Regions from separate parts of the Homo sapiens genome. Here regions 2 and 3 are each linked to region 1. Evidence: fine-mapped expression QTL. A gene starts in region 1. Each other region holds a variant in brackets. All regions are shown on one strand. Distances are between the middles of the regions. Region 1 holds the start of ALKBH3 (alkB homolog 3, alpha-ketoglutarate dependent dioxygenase). Region 2 has its middle 21 kb from the start of ALKBH3. Region 3 overlaps ALKBH3 (alkB homolog 3, alpha-ketoglutarate dependent dioxygenase).

Region 1 (6,794 bases):
GGAGAATGGCATGAATCCAGGAGGCGGAGCTGGTAGTGAGCCGAGACCACGCCACTGCTCTCAGCTTGGGTGATAGAGCGAGACTCTGTCTCAAAAAAAAGACTTGGAGGAAAATTTACAGTATATACTTGTGACAATGGTGCAGGGTCCTTCCTCCAAGAGATGTGGCTTCCCTGTCAATCAAGAGGTTTGGGGTCGTGATATGACTTGTCTGGAAACTAGGTGAGAGATATGTCTATCCAGTGTGGCCAGGTAAGGTTTTTGGCTACTAGACATAGACTTTTTTTCTGTTAGATAGATCAAACAATTCTCTAGTAGGCTGCCCATCTGTTTCATTCCTAGGGACACCATGGCCACTACCAAAGATCCTTATAGACCAACATATTCTGATTACTGGTATGTCCTGGCTTCTGTATTGGATCAATGTCCTTACCTTTAATAATTAAGTGCTGCCACTTGGCCTCATCATCTCCAGTAAAACCAGGGGACCCAACTCAATGGTGGCATCTTCCATGATCACACCTGGCCTGCAAAGGAGAGCAACCACAGAGCTTTCCAAGGATGCAAGTGCTCCCTTGTCTAAAGTATTTCTCAATGCTTTAGAAAAAGGAGCATCTTCTGGATCTTGTTGTAGGATATAGTTTTTGTGTTTGTGTCTATTGCACGTGGGTCAGGGTCACATTTGATAAATTCAGTCCAACATTTCTACCCTTCTCAGTCTTTGGGTTCCCGCCTCTACATCGTGCCTTGGCATCTCAGTAGGATTAACCATAGACTACTGTTGAGTTAAATCTTCAATAAATCCACCAAATAAGCTGTTAGAGTCATTTCCAGTTGCATGAGTCAACACAATGTCTGTAAATGCACTCTAGTAAATGCCTCCATATAATTGGCCTGATATAGTACTATATACTGCCCTCCTTAGTTTAAAACAGTTAGAATCCACTTCCACACATTCCATACATTAGCAAAGTACGTGTAATTAGTATAGTTCTTTCAGCGTGCAAGCTGTTTTATCCTAGATCATAGTGTGTAGCAGCCTACCTGGAGCATTAATGAGGTTTGAACCTAGTTAGGGTCTAGTGGCAATGAGGCAGAAGAAGGGGAAGTAAATTCTGCTGGGTCTTGTAGAGAATGAGCTTCCCTTTTGAAGTCATCTGCCCCAGCTGAGGGCTTAGCAGTGTCTTCAAGCAAAGAATGACTAGTCTCCTCAGACTTAGGAGGACAAGCTACTTCCACTGCCAAGGAAGGCTCAGGGTGCCATGGGTGTTCAAGACTGTCAGTTATCTGGGTCTAAGCAGAGTGCTTATTTCAAATTTTGGGATTCCATTCCTTCCCAATTGATGCCTTAACTTTCAGAAGAGAAACTAACCTGGTAATTCAGCCCACAGGGAGTAGTCAAACACTGTGGGCCACTGTGCACTAAAGAGCCAGCTGAGAGGAGCACACTGGAACCAGAAAAAAGAGCCCCTTCCTCCTCTAAAGTTCCTCCAGTACCCTCCACTGATGAAGCTCACTGTCCATTGAACCAAAAGGCAAGGGAGAAACCTTCCAATATTGCAAACAGGGTAGTGAAGGGTGGGTTTGGAATGGAGACTCAATAGGTTGATAATTGGCAACACACTTCGCCTTCATTCCTTCTCCCATGGTCTCTACCACCACCTCCTGATAAAAACTCAAACACTTCAAATAGAAATAAGAAAGTCAAGACCCTAATGAGGATGCCAAGACCATTAAGAACATCTAATACTATATACTCGCATCGTCTAGGGTAACCAACCATCTCAGTTTGCCCAGGACTGTCCTGGCTTTAGCACTTAAAGTCCTGTGTCTTGGGAAACTCCTCAGGCCCATACAAACCAGAACAATTTGTCATCCTACATATGTCCTAGAGGTTTTCAAAATTTTTGTGCACCAGAATCACTTGGGTGCTTGTTAAAAACGCAGGTGATTCTGTTAAACAAAAAAAAAGCAGTAATTTCAGATGCAAGTAAATCATGGATTGATCTTTGAGAAATACACTACGTAGAGGCTGAAGAGGTGTCAATCACTACTTTTAGGAACTCCTCAATCCAGACTTCTTTGTTCCTGTTCCAAAACTATAATCATTGAAAAGAAAGAAATAACATATTTTAGAAGATACAGCCAAAGTTCCTGAGCCAGAAGCAGACATTGACAAATTAGTTGATGGGGGAAAAAAACTGTAGTGTGGCCTTAGCATTTTCTCTCCTTTCAGGTCTAGGATAAATCATTTTTTTCCTTCAGTGTCACAAAGTATAACAAATAATAATGAGTGCTGTGAAAATGGATTTGATAGTAGCAACAATATAGGTACACATTGATGAGGTGTACCTATAATGAGCTTCCTGAAGGTAAACACTCATATCAGGCTTATTTTAAAGATTTCCACAGTGACTATACTTTGGCGGATCTTAGAGAATGACTTGCATAAAACAGTCAATTCAGTGCTACTTTTGCTATTTTCATACTGTAAAGTACATGGTTTAACATGACCATTTTAAAGATGTTTCTCATGAGCTCAAATGGGGTGAGCTCTTTTTCATTTTTTGAGTTTTTGTTGTGTTCCAGGCATTGTGCTATATTCTTTAAATGCATTATCTCACTTAATCCTCCCAAAAAGAGCGATACCCATTTTAAAAAGAGGCAGAGTACTTGCCCTAGATTATACAACTAGTAAGTGGTGGTGTCTGGGCCAAAATGTAGGTCTGTTCACTCAAGCAAATTTGCTTAGCACTGGAGAGAGCCAAGGTGAATTAAGGCGTGGTCCTACGCCCTGCTGTAAATGCTGTGTTCGGAGGTGTGCACAGGCTGCAATAGGAACACAAAGGAGGCTCATTTCAGGCTCTCCGTGGTTTTTAGGATAAAATGCAAATCCTTTTGCCTAACACATTATAACCAGGTCCCCCAAACTCCTCTCCCTTTATCTAGTCCCACAGGGACCCGGTCACTCTTTCTGCCACAAAGATGCCGATGCTTGGACATCTCCAGTTTCGAGGAACTCACGTAGGAGACACGCCTTCACTTCCACCTTTGCCAAACCCCGACCCCTTCACACCGCTCCCCTGCACTCTCAATCCCTGTCCGCTGCAACACATATCCCCTCATCAGCACCTTCGGTGATTAGGCCCTCCAGGCGCGGGGGATGTGGGACTACCCGGACTGAGGACTGCGCACCGGAAGTAGTGGCGGCGCTGCGTAACGTCGAGAGGAAGTGCCTGATGCCGCGGCCTGTGATTGGGAGTTGCTGGAGTCGGTGCTTCACTCTTAAGGTTCCGATCACAGACTGCGGAGTGGGTCAGGGGCTGCGAGGGCTGCCCCAAGTCCTACCGGGTTTGCACGGGCGCGCCCGGCTCCGCCCGCAAGTGCGCCTTCCTGACTTACTGCTGGGTGCGCGGGGCTGGGGGTGCGAGTACCACCCCTGAAGTCTCTTCCTGGGCGACCTCCGGGGCCTCATTCTAGGCCTCCTTAAAGAGAAGGATCTAAATTAGGAAAAGGAAGTGCCCTTATCCACGACCAAGCTCTTCCACCTGCGGAGCTCGCTTAGTCTGCACCTCAACCGTGCGGAAAGTGACTGCCCTGTTTACTGAGGAAAAACTGGGGCTCAGAAAGGTGAAGTCATTTGCCATGGGCCATGCAGCTGGGAAGTGACAGATCTGGATTCAAAGCGAGTTCTGGCTGGCGCCAGAGTCCTTGTATTTTACAGCACTGGTTCTCAAGCTTTATGTGCATTAAGAATTCCTGGGTTGAGGGTGGCGTTAGTTAACAAATTCTGGGACTCTACAAATTGAGTAGATCTGGGATGGGGCTCTGGAATCTATTTTCAACAATTGTTCCCTGGCAAATAACATATGGCTCCCCAGTGAATGGAGCAAGAAGGTGAGCAAGTCGTATCCTCTGCGGGGACTGTAGGTAATTGTGTTACGCTTTTAGGGCCTCAATTGAGAGAACATGTCAAACGGGAGCTCCTGGGATTGGAGAATTGGTATTTGATTGTCATTAACTCTTCTGGGCAGATGGCAGCCTCTGCGTCTCTCCACCTATTAAATGAAATGAATTACATGCTTATCATCTGGGGGAACTTGTTAAACACACAGATTCCTGGGCCTGGCTCAGCTCTACTGAATCAGAAGAGGTGGGAGATGGGACCTGGGAATCTATAGTCTAAGCAAGCTATTAATATAAAACGAGCTTTTACCTTTGAGAACTTGAGGTGTGAAGCTTTCTTAGGTAGAAGCATAAAGAAATAGATTACAGATGTGGAACATGTGGCTTGAATTTCCTTGTTGTTTTGGTAGCTGTACGTGCTTCTGCATTTGCTGTAGGCTAAGCTTTTACTGGTACAACTGTCAAATTAGTATTATTAGCCATTATGAGGTGGATTTATCCGTTAGCTGGAGACAGGAGTTTAATATAAGTTGAATGTTAATCTGTCTGTTGTTGATTTCCTGAGTGGCTTTGGGTGCATCATTGAACTTTACCGTCCACATACATACCTGCATTGTGTCAAATCTTACACTGCTTGTTATAAAGACAAATACCTGTATCCATCCTAAATCAGATTTTCTGAAGGTGGGCCATAGGTATTTTGAACAAACTTCCAGGGAAGTTTGATGCAGCCAGTGATAATGGAATATATGCTTGGAAACAGTCTTAGCCGATTTCTCAATGTCCATGTAGGTGAAAATGGGAATAGTACAGTTTCCTTATATTCTACTCTTGGGGACTATTAAGAGGAATGTGGTTTATAATAGGTCCTAATTTTAGAATTTCTTAAAATGCACTTTCTTGTGAAAGAAACAAAAGTACTATGGTAAGATTACAAAAGGTGAATGCTAAAGCCAGCAGCCCCAAATGACTAGGCTTCTTGAATGAAATGTTGTGATGACATAAACTGATTTTACATGGAAGCTCTATTGCCATTGAGAGTCTTCTGCCTGAAATTAATTATGCCTTAGGAGTAATTGTTCACAATCCTAACTAAAAGCACTGTTTTGTTTTGTTTTAATAAACAGATACCATGGAGTAGTTTGAAACAGGAACAAAATCTTCTGAAAGCTCGGAGCAGAAGCCTTTTTGGTCAACATGGAGGAAAAAAGACGGCGAGCCCGAGTTCAGGGAGCCTGGGCTGCCCCTGTTAAAAGCCAGGCCATTGCTCAGCCAGGCAAGAATCTGTAGGGATTTTGTGTGTGTGTGGATATGGACAACTCTCATTCTCTTTTATTTATATCCTTTTGGTTTATAATGGACTTCCATTTCAATTGACGTCAAGGAATTGTTTAAAATGTGGCTGATATTTTGTCCGATTTTGTTGATGGTGAGCTAAGGGTGGGTCTTTAATGTTCCTCATATTTAGTCCACACCCTCAAACCTTTCAGTATCTTCTGTTGACTTTACCAGTTAGTTTCTACATGTCATAGAGATCATCTCCAAGTGGGCTTTATTGGCCCTTGCTCAGTAGAAGGTGCTGAGAACAGACTTTCCCCTGGTTTGAGGCTGTCCCCTCTCTTGCTTCAGCTACCACTGCTAAGAGCCATCTCCACCAGAAGCCTGGCCAGACCTGGAAGAACAAAGAGCATCATCTCTCTGACAGAGAGTTTGTGTTCAAAGAACCTCAGCAGGTAAATTCATGGTTTTTTCTTCAATAGTGATAAAAATTTGCTTAGAAAAGTGATATTCACACAGTAGACACTCAAATAAATAATGACTGAATAAATTCACTAATAGCAGAGCAGAAGAACTATAATAATAATGAAATGAGAAATATTTCAGTTCCTTTCTATGTCTGGGGATTCTTCGTAGTCTGCTCCCAGTTTATGGTCACATGTTATTCCCGTATTTTTGGCAAGGAGGTTACACCATAATGAGAGCTTGCTTGCATTGGTTATTTGAGCTCCAGCAGTCCTAAAACTGTGCTGTCTTCAGTGCTATTGCACTTCACCATCTTTGGAATTGGATTAAAATTTCAGTTTTTACAATAAAATGCCTGATTTTTAGCCCTTTTTTCCCATGAGGAAAAATGTAGGAAACAGTGAAGATTTACTTTTTAATAATGTGGAAAAGTTAAAAAGTTGGGTTTCTTGCCATAGTAACAACCCTATAAATAATTATTAAAACTCCTTATTTTATAGCATATTTTCTATTTTAAAAAATCTTGTCAAGATTTTTCCAGAGCTGCTGGCTGCTAGGAAAATTTATTCTATTAATAATTGTATCTTCTTTTACTGTCTACTAGCAAATGTGAAGTAGTTTTAAGAAGAGTGGAGACAAGGGTCTCTAGTGGGTTAGTGAGAAGTTGGAATAGAAAAGAGATAGTTTTTAACTTTATTTTGACCAGAAATGGGAAGATATGGTAAGTCAGTATCCTTGAGGATTAAGAACATCCCAGAAGTAAGATCCGCCTATTTCCTTGCAGGTAGTACGTAGAGCTCCTGAGCCACGAGTGATTGAGTAAGTAATTTGCTGTCTTCCTGTAATTGTTGCCCACAGTGAAATGAAGAGCCTGGAATCTTTCCTCACTGTTTTTTCTATCTGGAAGAGAATGGCCCAATAAGTGTCTTAACTGTAGTCTGGGATATTCCCATCTCAAATGTCTTTAAACTTGATCTTTTGAGAAGACTTTCTGAATTTGCTGATAGTATTGAAAATGCAACAAGATATCCATATGTTAAACTTTGACTTGTGTAGATTTCCTGGCCCTATTTCACCGATATCTGTAGACAGTAAGCTAAACCTCTCAGGCAAAGACAGAGAGGGATTTTTCCTGAGTCATTGAA
Region 2 (5,897 bases), 21 kb before region 1:
TGAACTACTACTGCACTCCAGTCTGAGTGACATAGTAAGACCCTGTCTCAAAAAAAGAAAGCAGTTGTAATTCTGGCTAGAAAATCCCTTAAGAATTTCAAAACTTCTGAGCTGTGGCTTTGATTGCTTCAACTTGGCAAGCACCCACTTGTATTTGACACTCCAGGGTGAAGGTGATGACGTAAAAATGTATTTTTCTAGGCACATGAAAAGAAAAATTATGTTAAAAGAGAAAACAGTATACTCCAAACCTTCAAAATAGTCAAGTAAAAATTTCAGACTTAACTTTATGTTGACTTGATTTTATGTTCTAATGCATACTAGATAAGATTTGAACACAGACGGGCCAGGCGCAGTGGCTCATGCCTGTAATCCCAGCACTTTGGGGAGGCTGAGGCCGGCTGATCATGAGGTCAGGAGTTCAAGACCAGCCTGGCCAACATGGTGAAACCCTGCCTCTAAAAAAAATACAAAAATTAGCTGGGCTCAGTGGTGCACACCTGTAGTCCCAGCTACTCAGGAGGCTGAGGTGGGAGAATCCCTTGAACCTGGGAAGCGGAGGTTGCAGTGAGCCGAGATTGTGCCACTGCACTTCAACCTAGGCGACAGAGTGAGACACCATCTCAAAAAGAAAAAAAAAGAAAGAAAAGAAAAAAAAAAGGATTGAACACAGAAAGACTAGAGTAGACAAGAATCACTTCTCCATTCTTGGTTATATTTCCTTATCTTTATACACTACTGAAATCAGTTTGTTTCAAGTATTTTACCTGGGATTCTTGCATCTACATGAAATTGGCCTGCAGTCTGCCTTTCTTACACTTTTTTGGTCAGTTTATGGTGTCAAGATTATAACTCCATTAAATGAATTGGAAAGTGTTGCCTTTTTTCCTGTTCTCCATAAGAATTTGCAAAAGATTGGAATGATCTGTTTGTTAAAAGTTTATAAAGCTGTCTGGCCCTGGTATTTATTGGTGGGAAGACTTTAACTACTATAATTAGACTATTCAGGAATTCTATTTTTTTTTCTTGAGTCAATTTTGAAAAAAAATCTAAGCATTTACCCATTTTACAATTTATTAGCATAAAGTAGCTTAAGGAATTTTCTTATTTCTAAACCTCTCCTGGATATGCATACTTCCTTTTCCGATACTGTTTGTATCTTCTCACTTTCTTTTCCTTGGCCGTTTTACCAGAAGTTTGTCTATTTTATTTTTTTAAAGAACCAGTCTTAGCTTTGTTCATTCTCTCTGCCCTTCTCTTTTATGTTCTGCTTTCTGATGGTTTGTTCTGTTGTTTTCTCATTTCATAAATTGGACATTTAACTCATTCATGTTCAAGGTTTTTTCTATTTTTAGTAAGTATCTGAGTTTATTTGAATTACCTCCTTTGCCTCACCCCATGATTGAGTGTATGCATGTATACAAACATGTATATATACACATTTTTATTGCTTTTCCATTCATATCTTTACATTATGATTTATTTGACCTGTTAATTATTTTACAGTATTTTTAAATGCACAGACTTAAGAGTTTTATAAATGTATTTCCTTTTCAAAAAAATTTTGTAATGTTAATATCACTATTAATAAGACAATTTTATATTTTGTGAATCCTGATAAAATGTGCTGAAGACACAACATTAATTATGTGATATTCCTGCCAAAAATGCATAACATGAACATAGTAGAGAGAAATATCAGAAAAAGATAAAATGAGGAATATCCTACAAAGTTACCAGCCTATACTTCTCAAAAATTTCAAGTTAAAGGAGACTAAAGTGACGTGACAAGTACCTGCAGCACGTGTTTCTGGACTGGATCTTGGTCAAGAAAGCATTTTTTAAACTTTTGTTCTTTCGGACATTTTTGAGACATTCGGTAAAATTTGAGTAAGGTCTGTAAATTATTAATAGCATTATATCAGTGTGACTTCCTGATTTTGATAATAATGTCATGGTTCCTTGAAAAA[G/A]TCCTTGTTTTTTAGGAAATAGACACTGGAGCGTTTAGGGTTAACGGAATATTGATATGCAACTGAATCACAAAAGGTTTAGGAAAAATTATAGAGAGAGAAAATGGTAGAGTAAATGGGGTCAGATGTTAACCTTTGGAAAATCTATGTGGAGGTATATGGATACTTTGTACTGTTTTGCAGATTTACTGTAAATCTGGAATCATTTCAGAATAGAAAGTTTAAAAATAGCTTTTGTTCTAACTAATTGCATGTGGTCAAAGAACATGCGAGTATGATAAAGCCTGGGCAAATTTTTATAGCCTTTCTCTGCCTCAGCTTTACCATCTGAAAAATGGAAATAATAGCACCTATGTCATATATTGTTTGAGAGGAAGTTAAGACACTTAAAGTACTGAGAACTCATCCAGGCACAAGTATATAAATATATGTTGTAGTAGGCTGAATAATGGCCCCCAAGACATCAGGTCCTAATCCATGAACCCTATGTTACCTTACGTGGAAATGAGGTGTTTGCAGATGTGATTAAATTGGAGATCTTGAGATGGGGAGATTTTCTTGGATTATCTAGGTAGGTCCTAAATGCAATCACAAGTGTCTTTAATCAGAGGCAGGGAGATTGCAGACAGAAGAGGAGAAGGCAGTGTGATCATGAAGGTGAGGACTGGAGTGATGCAGCCACAAACCAAGGAATATCAGTAGCCACAAAAAAAAAAAAAAAAAAAAAAAAAAAAAAAGGAAGGGTCAAGGAACAGATTCTCTCCTAGAAATTCTGGAGGATGAAGCATCCCACCAACAATTTGATTTTGGTGTAGTAACACTCATTTTGGACTTCTGGTCTCCAGGGAACTGTGAGAATAAATTTCTGTTGTTTTAAACCACTGAGTTTGTGATAAATTTGTTCCAGCAGCCCCAGGAAACACAAATGTAAATTGTATTACCTATTAGAGGTTTTGTTTGTTTGTTTAGTGTCAGGGTCTCTCTCTGTTGCCCAGACTGGAGTGCAGTGGCGTGACCATGGCTCACTGCAGCCTCAAACTCCTGGGCTCTTACAAGTGATCCTCCCTCTTCAGCCTCCTGAATAGCTAGGACTATAGGCACTGGCTTTATAATTTTTATTTTTAAAGATGGGGGTCTCAGTATGTTGCCCAGGCTGGTCTTGAACACCTGGCCTCCTGCAATCCTGCCTCAGCCTCCCAAGTAGCTAGGATTCTAGGCATGAGTCATCACACCTAGCTAGAAAATTTTTGAGACTTGTTTTACGTCCAGGTGTGGCCACTTTTTTTTCCTTTTTTTTTTTTTTTTGAGACACGGTCTTGCTCTGTCGCCAGGCTGGAGTGCAGTGGCACGATCTCAGCTCACTGCAACCTCCGCCTCCCGGGTTCAAGCGATTCTCCTGCCTCAGCCTCCCGAGTAGCTGGGATTACAGGCGTCCGCCACTACTCCCAGCTAATTTTTTATATTTTTAGTAGAGACGGGGTTTCACCATGTTGGCCAGGCTGGTTTCAAACTCCTGACCTCGTGATTCGCCCGCCTCGGCCTCCCAAAGTGCTGGGAGTACAGGCGTGAACCACCGCACCCAGCCACAGTATGGCCAGTTTTTTAAGTGTTTCACATGTGCTTCCTAATTATGTTTCCTTTTTTTTTTTGGAAACTGGTCTCACTGTGTCCCCTAGGCATGTACGATGGCATGATCTTGGCTCACTGCAGCCTCAACATCCTGGGCTTAAGCAGTCCTCCCACCTCAGCCTCCTGAGTAGCTGGGTATGTTGCCCAAGCTGGTCTGGAACTCCTGGGCTTAAATGATCCTCCGGCCTTGGCCTCCCGAAGTGTTGGGATTACAGGCGTAAGCCAAGGCACCTGGCCTCTGATTGTTTTCTACATATGTGGCACTGCTTGTTAATTGTGTTGTTCAAATCTTTCATATCTTTACTAACTTTTGTCTGACCTATTAATAATTGATAAAGGTATTTTGAATTCTCCTACTGTAATGGTAGATTTGACAATTTCCCCTCTTTTATCAGTTTTAACTTTATACATTCTATTGAGTGAATAAAGTGTGGAATTCTTGTGTTGTCCTGGTGAGTTGAACTCTTCTTGTTATGTAGTGACTTCCTTATTGCTAATGCTTTTTGCCTTAGCAAATAAAAATCTGTTTTCTGTTATCTCAATATAGCTTTGGTTGGTATTTAGTGTATATCTTTAAATCCTTTTACCTCCTACGTGTTGATGGTTTAGTTTTGTCTCTTGTAAGTCAAATAAATCTGGATTTTGGCTTTTCATTTGGCCATCTCTACCCTTTAGTAGACAACTTTATTCCATTTACATTTATTATAATTCTTAAAACATGAAGACTTCTATCATGTTATTTTGTACTATTTGTTTCTCTTTTATGCGTTTTTTCCATTACTTATTGATTGGCTGTTTGGTTTTATTATTGTTATTATTCCATTTCTCCCTCTGTACTAGGTTTAAAGTTTTACATTCTATTTATATTTTTCTTGTGTTTACTCCTGAACTTTTTCAATGCATACTCAATACAATCTAAAGTTATCTGGTATCATAACCCGTTCTTTACTTATAATGGACTTTGGAACATCATAAGTCTGATCAACCCCTTCCCTACTTACATGCTATTGTAGGCCAATATTCTAACCTCTGATTTTATTATTATTATTACTATTATTATTATTATTATTATTATTATTATTATTTTGAGATGGAGTCTCGCTCTGTCACCGAGGCTGGAGTGCAGTGGCGCAATCTCGGCTCACTGCAACCTCCACCTCCCGGGTTCAAGCGATTCTGCTGCCTCAGCCTCCCGAGTAGCTGGGATTACAGATGTGTGCCACCATGCTGGGCTTTGTTGTACTTTTAGTAGAGACGGGGTTTTGCCATGTTGGCCAGGCTGGTCTCAAACTCCTGACCTCAGGTGATCCGCCCGCCTCACCTGCCTGTAATCCTGCCTCCCAAGTGCTGGGATTACAGGCGTGAGCCACCGTGCCCAGCCTAACCTCTGATTTTTAGAACCCCATAAGTTAGACATTTTTATTATCTTATACACACATTTTTGTATAAAATAAATTACCACCTGTTTATCAAGTTCCTTGTATACCTTTATTTCCTACATTTGAGATATTCTGGTGCATATCATAATTTGACATTACTTTTTTTCTTTACTGGTGCTGTATAAAATAGTGGTGTGATTTAGCATTGATGGCATCTTAAAGTTAATGAAATACTGGATCATATTACTGACTTCTGGCTTCCATTGTTGTTTTTCAGAAATCAGTATGGTGCCTTTTGTTGTAGGTGATATATCTCTGGCCTCTTTGGCAATACCTTTTGACTTGGTGTTCCTCAGTTTCATGCCAAGGTGTCTAAGTGTGGAACTCTTTATTTATTCTACCTGGTTTACAGTATGCTTCCTGTATCTATGAATTCATGCCTTTTGTCATTTCTGAAAATTTATCAGGCATTATCTCATTGTATCTATCTGAGACTCAAGTTACAAGTGCCAAGTCTTCATTCTGTTTTTCTGTTTGTTTGTTTGTTTTGAGACAGTGTCTTACTCTGTCACCCAGGCTGGAGTGCAGTGGCGCAATCTTGGCTCACTGCAACCTCCGCCTCCTGGGTTCAAGCGATTCTCCTGCCTCAGCCTCCCAAGTGCTGGGACAACAAGCGCCCACCACCATGCCTGCCTAATTTTTGTATTTTTTTTAGTAGAGGTGGGGTTTCACCATGTTGGCCAGGCTGGTCTCAAACTCCTGACCTCAAATGATCCACCCACCTCGGCCTCCAAAATCATGCTGGGATTACAGGCGTCAGCCACCGAGCCTGGCCCATTCCCTTTTAATCTCACATTTATACTTTCCACCCTTCTCTCCCTGAGCTGCATGCTGCATCATTTCTTCACATCTATATTGC
Region 3 (6,794 bases), 32 kb after region 1:
CCATCGTGAAAAAAATGCTTTGCTTGACCCTGCAGATATCCTGACATCTTGGGCTTTTTCTTGTTTTTGAAGCACAGATTCAGGAATGAGTTGTCTGCATCTGAAGTCTCCCCTTTCTCAAAGCTTAACTCATTATTGACACACCTGCTGTTTCGCTCCATCCCACCACTCTGCTGAAATTATCCTCATACCGTTGACCTCAAATCAAGTCCACCAGCCTGTCCTCAGTCATCATCTCTCTTCCTTGTAATATTGGTCACCAGGATGCATCACCTCTGTGTGTGAAACTTGCCCATGTATTACCTGCGTTTTCTTCCTCTGAAATACTGTCTTGTTTTAGAATTCCCAAACTTTTCTCATTGCTATTTTTCTGCCTCCTTTAAGGCCTTTTCTTTTACATTCAACCCCTTAAATATAGACGTTCAAGATTTCTTTGATTCTGTTATTGTTCTCTACATTATTTTTTAGGAGATTATGAACTGGCAGTAGATTGTAAATACCATATGGGCAAGGTCCCTTTCTGTCTTATTTATCATTACATTCTTAGCATTTAGTTCTACATATGTTGATTGAATAAGCAAATAAATAGGATCTCATTAGTTCTTATAGCTTTAACCATTCCTTCTTTGGTGGGGTGACTTCTGAATCTCCTATCTCCAGCTTTGACTTTCATCTGAAGTTCCAGTCATCACTTTCCACATGTTCACGAGACATTTCCACTTAATAACAGCACATGTGGCTTCCACCCTGTAATGATAAAATCAGATTCGTATTGTTCTTTCAGAAAAACTCCACACTTGCTGGTAAGTTCATTTATGTTCATGTTAACCTAACCATTCTCTTGGTCAGGTTAACACCGTAAGTTATTTTCAGCTCTTCCTTGTTCCTTTGTTTCTCATATATTATCAAGTCCCAAGTCATCTGAATTCTTTCTTGAACTATCTAAAGAACCCATCTCTCTTACAGTGACCATCTTTATCCCAGGCACTTTTTAACCCATGCCTACAGTACTAAAATGACTTTTTTTTTCACCCTGATGTCCTTAATTCCAATCTTTGCTCCCTCTCTTCTGTCCATTACCCAGATGTCAGGTATTATTTCCAGGAACAGTTCTTTCCTGCCTCTCTCTCACTGTCTTCTCTCATTCTCCCCTCTCCAAATATTAATTAAACCCCTACTATGTGTCAGGTATTATACTATGCTCAGCTCTGGGGATATAGCAGTGAACATGACAAACATAGTCCCTGCCCTTATGGGGGTTACAGGAGCTAGACTATAATCAAATAAACAGAGAGAAATAGTTACAACTCATGGTTAGAGCTCTGAATTTTTATTTTAGAAGATCACTGTGGCTGCTGTGTGAAGAATAATTTGGGAAGAGGCAAGAGTAGGAGACTAAAAGAGTAGGTGGTTGTAGTCATCGCAGTGGGAGACTGCTAGCTTGGACTAAGGTGGCATTGGGGATGAAGAGAAGTTAATGGGTTTGAGGTATATTTCTGAGGATGAATCAACAGAACTTGCCAGTAATATGTTAGATGTGGGGGTAAGGATCCAGACTCCCAGGTGTCTGACTTGAGCAGTGGTGAGTGGAGTTGCTGTTTACTCAGGTGGAAGAGAAGCTGGGATTTCTGCATTTGATTTTGTCCCTGCTGGAGGAGTTCCTTCTTCTACGTGCAAAATCTGAGGTGCCTGAGGCTTCCAAATGTTAAGTAGGCAGTCGACTGTGTAAGTCTGGAGTTCAGACAACAGGCCTGGCTGGAGATGTCATTTGGGAATTTTGGAATAACCGCAATAGTAAAACGCTAATAATAAATAACAAGTGTATAGTGCTGACTGTGCCTGGCTCTGCTCTAACTTCTTTATTGAATTCTCTGATAATTTTATATAGTTGATGCCATTATTATTTCCATTGTACAGATGAGATGACTGAGACTCAGTGTTAAATTACTTGCCCAAGATGGCTTAGACAACTATTTGTTGAATGTGGAATCGAATTAAAACTAATAATATAGACCATATGTAAAACTGTGGAATTGTACATTATCATTCAGAGAAAGAGAATAAAAAAGGGAGCGGCCAGGCGCCGTGGCTCATGCCTGTAATCCCAGCACTTTGGGAGGCTGAGGTGGGCGGATCACAAGGTCGGGAGTTCGAGACCAGCCTGACCAACATGGTGAAACCCCGTCTCTACTAAAAATACAAAAAAAATAGGCAGGCGTGGTGGTGCGCGCCTGTAATGCCAGCTACTTAGGAGGCTGAGGCAGAAGAATCGCTTGAACCTGGGAGGCAGAGGTTGCAGTGAGTCGAGATCGCACCACTGCACTCCAGCCTGGGCCACAGAGTGAGACTCCTTCTCAAAACAAACAAACAAACAAAAAACAAGAAGGGAGCATAGAGCCTCAAAGGTTGAGCTCACTGCTTTCATCACTTTGTTTTCCACCTGAAAAATCTTAATTTGCTTCTGTTGGAACAAAGGATAAAATAGAAACTCCTTACCCAGATTGCCAAATCCATACATGATCTTAGCCCAGGGAGATCCATGGACTCTCACTGTTCCCGTATGGTTGCTCCATTCTACTAAGTTATCTCTTTGCTTTCCCCGAGGCTTGCTCTCCAACTTCTTAACTTAAAAGGGCCCCCTATAGCGTGAAGGCTTTCCTGATGCCTCCAGTGCAGAAATTAATAATAGTTACTGTGTGCCAGGTGCTTCCTGTGAACCTGTAAAACAAGAAACAGGTAGCAGGCTTCTACCTTGTCCTTTCTGCTCATTTGTGTTTTGTTTTTATAAGTGTCTTCTTAGTACAGAGATGGAGGTTTTTCTATTTTGCTCATCTAAGGAATCAGAGATGATGTGGAAAACCAACTGCCTCACTGTTATCTGAGATCAGTAATTTGGAAGCATATTTTGCTTTGAATGACTTTTTCTGATTGAGTTAGGGGTGAGATGAAGAATGTGATAATTTTTTAAAATCATGGCATTTATTTTTTAAAATCTTAATATATTAAACAATACAGTTTCAGATACAAAAAAAATTACTGCAATAAAACAGTTGAGGTGTATTTCCATTGTGCTTCCCTTCCTTATCAGGAAAGTACATTGTCCACTGAGAGACAGGATGGATGGCCTCTCCCAGCTCTACACAAAGCACAAGCCTACTGGCTCTCCTGGGCCTTGGTTAATACATGGAACAGGCTATGTTTTCTAAAATGTTGTAGCAACACTCATAAGTCAACCATGGTTCAAAAAGTCAACCATGGTTCAAATCACATATTTA[C/T]ATATTGATCAATTCTTTATGATAGACAGACATAAATGAGATACAGTAAATAATTTCCAGTTGTTAAAAAAAAAAAAAAAACAAGTACAGGCGACAAACTTGGTCATGGTACACAAATATACTTCATGTGTACAGACAGCTTCATTCAGGTCTAATTTTTTTTTAATTTTTGTTTTAGGTTAGGTATATTTGCAGGTTTGTTATATAGGTAACTTGTCTGTCACGGGGGTTTGGTATACAGATTATTTCATCACCCGGCTAATAAGCATAGTACCCGATAGGTAGTTTTTCCGTCCTCACCCCCGTCCCGTCCTCCACCCTCCATTATTCAGGTATAATTTTAATTTGAAAGACCTAGATATACTATTATTTAAGTGATAATGGCCTCTAAGATTTATTCAGATTACTATCAAATAATAAATTAAACAAATCCACTATAATTTAAAACTCTGTCCATTGCTTGAAACCTTGGAGGAGCCTATGCTACAATCAGTTGCTAACTAAAAGCAATTGTACGTGTATTTGATATTTCCCCACAGTTTCTACCTCTAGATTTAATTCAGTAAAGGAAGATGATATTTGAAGATGAAGTAGCACTTGTGTCCTGAGCATCTCTCAGGCACTACTGCATGGAATGGCAAAGGGGATGCAAGAAGCACATCAGATGACAACGGTCTTAGACGCTTACAAGTCTGCTAAGGTGACTGACAAGGGAATCAAAGAAGGCAGTCATGTCATGGACCTATCAGCAGCATAGCTGGGCAACCCTGGAGCTGAATCTGGCCCTCAGACTTGTTTAAATTGCCCAGTGTTTTTAAAGACACTGAATTAATTGCGAAAATTTATAACTCAGGAAATTTCACATAAAAATCCCACTTGTCAGCTTCCCTGGAAAACCCAGAAGAGGGGGCAGCACTGGGGGAACAGTGATCTGAAATGGCTCATTGGCAGAGCAGCCACCACCTTTCTGCAGGCCCCTGGTTCTGCATGGGTCCCTCTCCTCCCTGTGCTGCACCCAGCCCACACCTCTCACTTATGCTACTTGCTGGTGTTTGTGACCCCTACAGTATAGTCAGGGTGCCATATAATCAGGACAGGAAATATTAGGATTTCAGAAGGAATAGAGCTTACCTTGGAGAGCAGAGTATAGTGGAAAGAATAGGGCTTTAGAGCCGGGCCAATCTACATTCAAATGCTAGCCTGCCCTCCTGCTAGCTTTTGCCTTAGAGAAATATTTTCCCTCCAGCTCCCTTTGCTTATGATAAAATGGATAATATCACCTTCCTTGCCTCCCTTACAAGGTTGTAGTGAGGATTAGCAATAACGGATATAGAGTGCCTGATGTGCCTGGCACCTGAGCACATGCCATCGTAGATCTTGTGGAAGAAGTCTGGCAGGATGCTTTGGTTTAAGTACCTGGAAACTGTTATAAAAAGAAGCATGGAAAAAAAAGAATAACCCAACCACCACCAAAAAACAAACTCCATGTAGATTAAAGAGTTAAATCTAAAAAATGTAAACTCTTAAAAAAAAAACTAAAAGGAAATACAGTTGTATATTTAACTTTCCTCAGGATGGGAAAAGACTTTCTAAGCATAAAAATCATGAAGACGAGCCAAAGAAAGGTCAGTAGAGTTGACTCTAAAATTTTTGAGCTATTCCATGTTAAATACCATAAGTACAGTTAAAAGGCAAATAGCAAATGAGAAAAGCATTTGCAAAAAGTATGACAAACAAATGCCTTAATATCTGTGGTTGTAGATCAATAAGAAAACAGTGTTAACACCCCCATAGAACAATGGACAAAGGACATGAACAGAGAGTGTTCACAGCAGAAGAAACACAAACAGCAAACAGAATGAAAAAAAAAAAGTTGAACTTGGGCTGGGTGTGGTGGCTCACACCTGTAATCCCAGCACTTTGGGAGGCCAAGGCAGGTGGATCACTTGAGCCCAGGAGTTCAAGACCAGCCTGGCCAACATGGTGAAACCCTATCTCTACTAAAAATAAAAAAAAATTAGCCAGGCATGGTGGCAGGCACCTGTAATCCCAGCTACTCGGGAGGCTGAGGCACAAGAATCGCTTGAACCCAGGAGGTGGAGGTTGCAGTGAGCCGAGATCACACCACTGCACTCCAGCCTGGGTGACAGAGTGAGACTCTGTCTCAAAAAAAGAAAAAAAAAAAAAAAAGAACTTGGCTTGTAATCCAAGATCTCTAAGTTTGAATGAGTTGTCATTTCTCCCCTAATTGTTTTTCGTTACTGTCAGTTGATAATGTTCAGCCAGAAGATAGGTACTGTCATGTTTTCCTGGTGAGATTATAGATTGCTGCAGCCTTCTCAAGAAAGCAGTTTGGTAATATAAATCAAGTGCCTTAAAGTTCATACACTTGGCTCCAGTAATTCCATTTTTTAAGAATATATCCTAGAAATATATGCAGAAATGTTTTGCCCAAAAATCTGCTTGCAGCAGCTTTTTATTTATTTTCCCTCTTTTTAAAAAAAAATACTGGTGTATGAAAATCAATCTCCAACCATGTGCTCCTTACTGCTCCATCCTTAGTACTAGCATAATGCCTGATATATACAGGTGGTCAAAAGGTATTTGTGAGTTTAAAGGAAGGATATGTTCATACAAAGGAATATTCTATAACCATATTTTTGAAATGTATATTTAAAGATATAGAAAAATGCTCAATAAAATATTAAAAATGGAGTACACACGATTGTATATCTGGAAGACTCTGTGTGTATGTTGTATAAACTCTGGATGATAGGATTACAGGCGATTTTCTACATTTTCTGTGTACTCTTCCTCAGTCATTCAGTACATATTTATTCATATGTGTGATAGGCACTGAGAATGTTTCTTAACAGGAAGACCACATAAACTTTCCCTCATGGAGTTTATAAGAGCAGAGGTTGAATAAATAATTACAAGTGCATCATTTACTTTAGTAAACTTATGTTACTTTTTATATTCTAGAAGGAAAACCTGTATGATGATTTTAAAGCATTGATGATTGTTTGTAATTTCTAAGACATTCTTTTAGGACAAGAAAGGGATGATTTTAAGAAAACTCCAAATCTCATACAGTATGAATTACCTTTCCAATGGAAAGAAAAATGTTTAGGTTTCCCATCTGTTGGATGGTTAATAATGACATAACAGTAAATACATCCAGATTTTTTCACCCCAAATAGCATTTTCTTAAAGGAAACTGAATAGGATATGTTGGTGAGGTGGAGGTAAGAGTTGTGAGAAGCTTTAGAAAAGCATAATTAAGCCTTCAAATGAACTGGCTGCGGTTGGAGGAATGAGAATGTTGATCAGCATTAATATAAAAATACATGTTTTTCGCTTTTTCCATGTACTCGTAGGGTTTCAAGTATTTGGAAAACCAAGAACATCAATAACAAAACCCACCCTGTAGCTTGAGTGTGACCCTAAAAGCTGCTTTTAACCAGGATGAGTGATGGAAAATTTTATCCTTAGCCCTGGTTTTGGGGGGTGTGTTTT

What was found. PIP is the estimated chance that this variant, and not a neighbour inherited with it, causes the effect. A credible set is the group of variants that fine-mapping cannot tell apart.
Region 2: its variant is the best candidate, but not a certain one, in a credible set for the expression of ALKBH3 in whole blood (TOPMed, PIP 0.66).
Region 3: its variant is the best candidate, but not a certain one, in a credible set for the expression of ALKBH3 in cerebellum (GTEx, PIP 0.82).

What each region holds. Positions count from the first base shown.
Region 1 is chr11:43,877,550-43,884,343 of GRCh38, forward strand. It overlaps ALKBH3 (alkB homolog 3, alpha-ketoglutarate dependent dioxygenase), which reads left to right and starts at 3,282. Exons shown (of 10, transcript NM_139178.4): 1 at 3,282-3,630; 2 at 5,034-5,182; 3 at 5,536-5,639; 4 at 6,434-6,468. The coding sequence starts at 5,104. It overlaps LOC105376644 (a long non-coding RNA gene), which reads right to left and starts at 3,188. Exons shown (of 3, transcript XR_001748200.2): 1 at 3,133-3,188; 2 at 434-527. RefSeq lists an enhancer at 3,068-3,267.
Region 2 is chr11:43,857,081-43,862,977 of GRCh38, forward strand. No RefSeq gene overlaps it. Among named protein-coding and RNA genes, the nearest start is that of ALKBH3, 21 kb to the right of the region's middle. The variant G/A (reference allele first, on the strand shown) is at 1,971.
Region 3 is chr11:43,909,767-43,916,560 of GRCh38, forward strand. The region is part of intron 8 of ALKBH3 (alkB homolog 3, alpha-ketoglutarate dependent dioxygenase); the gene reads left to right. It overlaps ALKBH3-AS1 (ALKBH3 antisense RNA 1), which reads right to left. Exons shown (of 6, transcript NR_038907.1): 5 at 2,497-2,718; 6 at 1-747. Among named protein-coding and RNA genes, the nearest start is that of ALKBH3-AS1, 7.8 kb to the right of the region's middle. The variant C/T (reference allele first, on the strand shown) is at 3,276.